Homo sapiens: one gene and its partner. The protein of the gene in region 2 interacts with the protein of the main gene of each other region in a biochemical or structural test. Each region holds a gene or a part of one and is shown on either strand. Other genes may lie near its edges.

Region 1 (3,919 bases), on a different chromosome or scaffold from region 2:
TATACTGGCAAACACTACTTCCAGAAGATTTAGAGACTAGCATAAAATAGATTAAAATCTGTTTAGCTAAAAGGCTTGTCCAAAATAATGGTCTTGTAAAAACAGGAGACATACTTTTAACAAAATTCTTAGTTTTTACTGTTCCCAGCCCAAAGGTTTCAAGCATGTATTTTTTAATGTAAAAACCATTTTGCCTAGAAACCACCAGAATTTTACTTCATAAGCATTACTGTGTTAAAATGTCTACTTCCGAACTTCCTACCTTCACCATGTGCTCCCTTAGAATGTATGTGGAGAGACGCGCTGGTGACAGGCTGAGATGGCTGGGCATACTGCGAGGGCAATGGAGGAGGAGGGGGAGTGGCCTGGATGGGTTCATAGCGTTTCTCGCCAAATGATCTATCCACACCATCAGCTTCAGGAGGCTTTCCCCTGTTAACAAATGAAGAAAATGCCAACACCTGAAAATGGACTCACATTTACAAAACAAGTTCTCATTTCTCCATGTATCTCTAAGTTAAAAAAAAAAACTAGAAATTTCACAATTTATTCTCATGAGTATGGGTAGCTACTCTACCAAAATATAAAAACAGATTCGACCATTCATCGGCACAAGAAATGTCCAGACACACAAAAACTTTAAGAATATTAGTAAAACATCCAGAAGATGGCAACCAAAGGCAGGTGAAATTTTGGGTATAGTTTAATTGTTATTTACAAAAGATAGTAATGTTGACAGATTTAAGAAAGTCTTGCAAATATTCTGAAAACATATCATGGCACAAATTTTCCTGAGACCCACTTTTTTTGTTTTTGAGACAGGGTCTCATTCTGTCGCCCAGACTGGAGTGCAGTGGCGCGATCTCAGTTTACCACAACCTCTGCCTCCCAGGCTCAAGTGATTCTTCTGCCTCAGCCTCCCGAGTAGCTGGGATTACAGATGCCAGCCACCACGCCTGGCTAATTTTTGTACTTTTAGTAGAGATGGCGTTTCACCACGTTGTCCAGGCTGGTCTTGAACTCCTGACCTCAAGTGAGCCGCCTGCCTCTGCTTCTTAAAAGTGCTGGGATTACAGGCATGAGCCACCGCACCCGGCCCTAGACCCACTTCTGATTTTGTATCTGGCATCTGGCATACTCGGAGCACCATAAAAACAGATGTCACAGACTAGGGGTTGGCAAACTTTTTCACTGAAACACCAGAGAGTAAATGTTTGTGGTCTTTTGGCCCATACAGTCTTTGTTAGAACTATTCAAATTATGCGGTTATAGCCTTGAAGCAGCCACAGACAATGGGCATATCTGCGTTTCAGTAAAACTAAAAAAACTGGAGCTTTTACTTTAAAATTTCCCCTTGAGTTACCAGGTCCATTTTTTGGTTAAATGACTGCTAGAGCAGCAGATCCTGCTTTATTTTACAAGGTTCATTTAAGTCAAATTGTGCCATGTATGTTTATTTTTTCAGATTGCCAATTGTTAATATGTAACACAAAATTCACACAAATCTTTTTAAAAGACCCATAATTGCAACATTGCCATCTAAACCTTACTGCTGAATGCCAAAGCTGCACTAGCTTTATGTGCACCAACAATAACATATACATTTGGAATACTCCTGGTCATTTTCATAAATTTTCATTGAAGAAGTCTTATGATTGGCTTTTTTATCTTGCTTTCATGAATTTAGACTAAGCCCTTGATGATGACATTAAAATCTGAAAGTGCACATAATGCCAGTGACACAGTGAGGGACACCTTATGGAACAGCCTCACATTAATTGCCAGTCTTACCACTTGACGTTCCTTTTCAAGTAGTCATAGCTAGTGTAAGAGCCAAGAAATCTAGGTGATGGCAAAGCAAGCGCAATAGAAAAATGAAAGAAAATGGTCAATCTAACTAAGTAAATTTGCAGCAAATGGAACTCAAATGTCATTTAAAAATATCAACCAACATCCACCATTTCACCATAATTTGGTCTATAAAGGAACATATCACTAACTCTCATTTGGCCAAGGAAATTGAAGATAAATAAAACACAATCACTTAGTTATGTCCCGTCTGCTGGCCCATCCTTCATGTACTTTAACTGTTACTGCAGTGAAAAGCAATGTGTTTGAACTTTGCTCCTTCTCCACCTCTGTTGCAGCTGCTAATAGTGAGCAAAGAAATTTATCAAATCAAAGAGTGGTGATCAAGGATAATTAGCAGGTTCTGAATAAGTGGGAGTGACATGTCCCATTAAAAAAAAAAAAAAAAAGGCTGGGCAAAGAAATTCTGCAAGTGAAGACACAGGAAAAAGTAACACAACAGAAGAGCTACATTGAGCCCCTGGGAGGGGAATGGTAAATGGAGAGATAGAAATATGCCTGGCTTGAAACCTGGCCAGGCTTCACATGTTCCTTTCTAGCAAGACCTCCTCCATCTCCAATCGTAAGCTGGGCCCTGTGGTGGTGGAGTCTTACTGGTGAAGCTGCATGCTTGATGCTCAGGCTCTCTCTCATCTAATGATGTCTCACAAACACAAAAACAACTGAACATCAGTCTCTCACATTTAGTTCTTTAAAAGCTACAAACCACCATCATTTATTGAGACCTGGAAGTCTCACATAGTGAGTTGAGTCCTGAAAGGTAGATTTGATAACAAAAAATCCCTGGTTGTCCTGAAGAAGTTGACTCAATCTCTGGACTGAGACATGTGCACAGCCCTGGAGGGACACTGCTCTTCTTGCACTGTTTTAGAATCCTGGAAACTTCTAATTTACTTTGGAGGTGAATGTCTAAGCTACTGTCTCCTAACCTTTCCAGTTCTAATCCAGCTCTATGGAACTGTTAGACTGGGTAATATCTGCTTGCTTCCTGGGGCATCTGTCCTGTGCTAACAAAGATTATTTTCCATATCTAATTCTCACCATTTCTGAGGTGTGTTTTTAAGTGAAGCATAAGCACACATCATCTGAAGGAAGAAAATTTTGCTACTCCTGTATTTACTGAAAGAAAGAAATGCCTGAAGGCAGTCTTATTTAGTGACAAACAGTAAATGGTTTTGAAATGCAGGACAGAATCCTATATTTTAAGCTATTTTCCAGTTGATGAAGTTGTACTCATTGGACAAGAGTATGAAAAAGCATTACAAGGGAAACTTACAGAAACAACTACCCTCTTAGTTATCTTCCATGACCCTTATTCTCCTTTCCATTTCTCTAACCATTAAATACCTATATGGGAAAATGCAGCACAATTATAAAGAGTTTCAATTTCACACTACAAAGGAAAAAAAAGTATACTGGTATCCAGCCCAAACTATACTTTTCTCTCTCACAGCAGCAGGGAGTAAAATCAAACTGAGTTCTGAGTAAATTCACAAAGACAGATGTCATCTGTTTCACAATATATCCCTGTGAAAACAATGACCAGGTAATACAGGTTCCTTCCAGAGCTGTGTTAATGAAAAGAAGGGTGGTGGATGCACCTAGTATACCATGCCCTGTTTTGAGCTTCATTCACTCAACAATTACTGAGCCCCTACTGCATGCAAGGCAATGTTCTACACCCTAAAGTTATACATCACAAATAAGCTAAGTCTTCTTTCTAGAAAAACAAATTAACACAGAAAGCAAACATGCATTTTGATTGATTCCCTGGCAAAACAACTTACTTTTTAGACCTAAATATACTCCTTTTTTTTTTTGAGATGAGTCTGGCTCTGTCGCCCAGACTGGAGTGCAGTGGCGCGATCTCGGCTCATTGCAAGCTCCGCCTCCCGGGTTCATGCCATTCTCCTGCCTCAGCCTCCAGAGTAGCTGGGACTACAGGCACCTGCCACCATGCCCAGGTAATTTTTTGTATTTTTAGTAGAGACAGGGTTTCACCATATTAGCCAGGATGGTCTCGATCTCCTGACCTCATGATCCACCCACC
Region 2 (3,919 bases):
GGACGGTTAGTGCAGCTGGAGGGGCTTTACACGCCTGGGCAAACACCTGGGCATGGTGTCTCCTCGGGGCTCTACCCATCCAGGATCTTCCTCCCGGGTGTGGCAGCAACATGTGACCTTAGAGGGGCCTGAGCAGACCAGGAGGCCCTTCTCCCTTCACTCTTTCCTCTCCTTGTCTTTCTCTTAAATTCTCAAACACCCTGCCACCTGCAGCACACGGAGGCAATAAGAAGGCATGACACTTCCTGCATCCCTTCCTGCGTACCTGCTTACCCACAGCCTTTGCTCATGGCAGCTGGGGGACCCAGAGACTAGGCAGGGCAGAAATGAGGAGTGGGCTGTGCCCAGTGCCTGGTATCAGCCTCCCTGCATGATGTCAGCCTTATAGACTCCTCTCCTCCCCAGCCATCCCCCTCAGCAGCCCCCCAGCTCCCCAGGCCAGGGGCCCTCTTCACAAAATGGCCTCTGTCATTCTTCCTTAGGGTAGGACTTTGAAAAGAAGCCTCCCACTCCCCCGCAGATGCAGACATAACATAGATATACAGACCTCCAAAACCATGGTGATGAGCATGACTTCTGGGTCAGGCAAGCCTGGTCCACATCCTAGCTCTGCCCTCTAACTCACTCTCCTGTCTCTGAGCACATTTGTTTATCCTCTTCGAGCCTCCGTTCCTTATCTGTAAATTGGGGTTAATATATTTACCATGAAAGGAATAATGAAATATACTTTGTGGTAGGGATTAAATGAAGTCATATACAGGAGGCACTTTGGCTGACACAAGGTGAACGTTCACTGAGTGGCAGAAGTTATTGTCGATCCCACCACCATTTACAGTTGGCTTCACCTTCTTGATTTTGTTTTGCAAAATCAGGGGAGTAGGTGTCCATTGTATTTTTGAAGTTTTATAAACAAGGAGACTGAGGCTTTTTTGACCACAGACTCAGGGGCACATGAGTTTGGGGAGGCACATGAGCATATTGATATACAGATTTAAGTCACAAACCATAAAAACTTGCTTATAAACACATGCACACATGGACACATGCCCTTTAACAGCTGGCTCAGCAGGCACCTTAACAGCTTTATTGTCATTTGTCCCATATATGAGGGACGAGCTCATATATGAGGGATGAGCTCACGGAGGATGGGCAGAGAGTTTGGAAAATTCAGAGAAAGGTAGACTGCTGGCAGAGGTGACAGATGGGTAGTCTTTGCATGAACAAAGGGGCAGGAGGCATTCCCAGGGTAGAGGAAGCTGATGCCTTCCCAGCGGAGGGGCTTCACACACCCGGGCACACACCTGGGCATGTTGTCTGCTCGGGGCTCTGCCCATCCAGGATCTTCCTCCTGGGTGTGGCAGCAACATGTGACTTTAGAGGGGCCTGAGCAGACCAGGAGGCCCTGAGCAGCAGCTCTTTATTCATTTCTCTCCACCTTTCTCTACTTTTCAAGCTGCTCCCCATCCCCATCCTCAAACCTGTCCCCATCTGGCATTGGAACCAGATACACCACAGAACAAGGAGGAAGAGCCAGGGATTCAGAGGATAATTAGCCAGGCAGGAGTTGGAGCCACTGCTACTCTCGTCCAGGCAGTAAGGCTAATACATTCCATACCTCACACATGCCCTGCACATCATAGTCTATGTATAGTATCTCATCTGACCTTCATGAGGCTCTAGTGAGTATGGTTATGTCTTGGTTTCTTCTCTGATGAAGAAACTGAGACTCAGTGATTTTAGGAACTCATCCGAGATCACACAGCAGGTAAACAAAGGTGCCAGGATTTGAAACCAGGCAGTCTGAATCTAAGTTTTATTCTTTTTCCACTATACCACTAGGCACACATGAGTTGAACAGAATGCTAAGACAGGTTTCGAGTAGTTTCTACTGGAAACCCCAGCATAGAGACCTTCATTGTGTAAATTCTAGAACAGCCCTGTCCACCACTGGGCACCGTGGGTCTCCCAAGATCTCCTCTTGAGTGTTCCCTCTGCACACTCCTCTCGAGTGTTCCCTCTGGACCCTCCTCTGGGTCTTTCTTGTCTTTCCCAGAAAGAAGCAAACAAAATCTTTTATCGGTGGAGCACGCTGGCTCATGCTTGTAATCCCAGCACTTTGGGAAGCTGAGGTAGGAGGACTGCTTGAGCCCAGGAGTTTCAGACCAGCCTGGGCAACATAGCGAAACCTCGTCTCTACAAAAAATAGAAATTAGCCAAGCATGATGGTGTGTACCTGTAGTTTCTGATACTTGGGAAGCCGAGGTGGGAGGATTGCTTGAGCCCAGGAGTTCCTTTCTCATTTATGGTTGATGAACACTGGGGGGACCAGAAAAATTATAATCAAAATCCTTCTGCCTTTATTTCATCAGTATCCATTCATTAATTCAGCAAATATCCCTGAGCACCTGTGATCACCCAAGCCCTGGGCTAGACATTGAAGTGTTGATGGTATATCAGAAGCAGCCGCTACCCTCAGGGAACTTACAGTCTGGTTTGTCTTAGAAGCCTATGGAGATAGGGGAGGGAGAGCCCCCCTTGTTTGCAACATCATACATCGGTCAATTGAATTCTTTAAACATTTAGCAAGAGCCTACTTGGTCACATTCTAGGCACTGGTGACCATATAAATATTAGTGAGACAGGGTTGCTGTTTTTCCAGGGGATCACAGTTTTGGTTGGGGCAGGGTTCGATAACTGTTATAAGTAAACAAAATCCAAGGCGCTAAGAGCTCTGAGTGACTGGTGGGGGCCACCATGGTGGGGGTGGGCTACAGCATGGAAAGCCTTGTGCATCAACTGGGATTTGAACAGGATAGGAAGCACTTCAATAGAAGCTGTGGGAGAAGGGCATGCCATATGGAAAGCACTGCAATGCAGGTCTTGGCTTGAGGACCCTGAACAGGAGGCCGAAATGCTTGGAACTTATGCCCTAGGCAGTTGTAGCCATTGAAGGTGCTTGAGCAGGGGAGTGGCACATACTTAGCTGTGCTGAAGGGAAAAATAACCTGCTAGCAGTGTGACATGGAGGTTACTGTAATAGGCCAGCCCATCTGTCTGCTCCAGGGCAGAGGAGCAGACAGGAGGAAGGATGGGAGAAGTGCTATGGAGGTAGCCACCTTTCCGAGCCAGACTCCCAAGACTATGAGCTGTACTCAGGGCCTGAGATAGCCCAGCCCTTTCTTAAGTTTGAGGCTTCCATCTGTAGTGTGCAGCTCTGAGCAACTGTAGGGGTATGGAGCCAGGCACAGTGGTTCACGCCTGTAATCCCAGCACTTTGGGAGGCTGAGGCAGGTGGATCACCTGAGAGGTCAGGAGTTCGAGACCAGTCTGGCCAACATGGTGAAACCCCTACTCTCTACTAAAAATACAAAAATTAGCTGGGAGCAGTGGTGGGCGCCTATAATCCCAGCTACTTGGGAGGCTGGGGCAGGAGAATCGCTTGAACCCAGGAGGTGGAGGTTACAGTGAGCTGAGATGGCACCACTGCACTCCAGCCTGGGCGACAGAGTGACACTCCATCTCAAAAACAAACAAACAAACAAACAATAAACCAGTAGGGGCATGGAGTACCAGAAAATATTATAGGCCAGGAAAGAAAAGCAGACAAGGACTGGGAAAGATGTGTGAGCTGAGGACCTAGAGGAAGCCACCACAAGAGCAATGAAGACAGTGGTTGTAGATTAGGGGGTAGGGTGGTACCGCCTACCTAGAGGCGCACATGCAGGTGGAAGGATGCTTCCAGAGGCAGGAGTTTTGGTCTTCAGGGAAGTGTTAGCCACACCCTGCACTGACTTTGCTCTGCTTTCTCCCACAGTCCCCCCAGAGGACACCAGGATTGACGGAGGCCCTGTGATTCTACTGCAGGCAGGCACCCCCCACAACCTCACATGCCGGGCCTTCAATGCGAAGCCTGCTGCCA

What was found.
Region 1: the proteins of KIRREL1 (region 2) and TJP1 form a complex in vitro, tested with the Homo sapiens proteins (3 studies listed by BioGRID and IntAct, with this or other methods).

What each region holds. Positions count from the first base shown.
Region 1 is NC_000015.10:29,710,569-29,714,487, forward strand, and holds part of TJP1 (tight junction protein 1), read right to left. Parts: intron 1,843-3,919; coding exon of another isoform or gene 1,792-1,842; intron 433-1,791; coding exon 263-432; intron 1-262. UniProt on the Homo sapiens protein: TJP1, TJP2, and TJP3 are closely related scaffolding proteins that link tight junction (TJ) transmembrane proteins such as claudins, junctional adhesion molecules, and occludin to the actin cytoskeleton.
Region 2 is NC_000001.11:158,080,608-158,084,526, forward strand, and holds part of KIRREL1 (kin of IRRE-like protein 1 isoform 1 precursor), read left to right. Parts: intron 1-3,814; coding exon 3,815-3,919. UniProt on the Homo sapiens protein: Required for proper function of the glomerular filtration barrier. It is involved in the maintenance of a stable podocyte architecture with interdigitating foot processes connected by specialized cell-cell junctions, known as the slit diaphragm.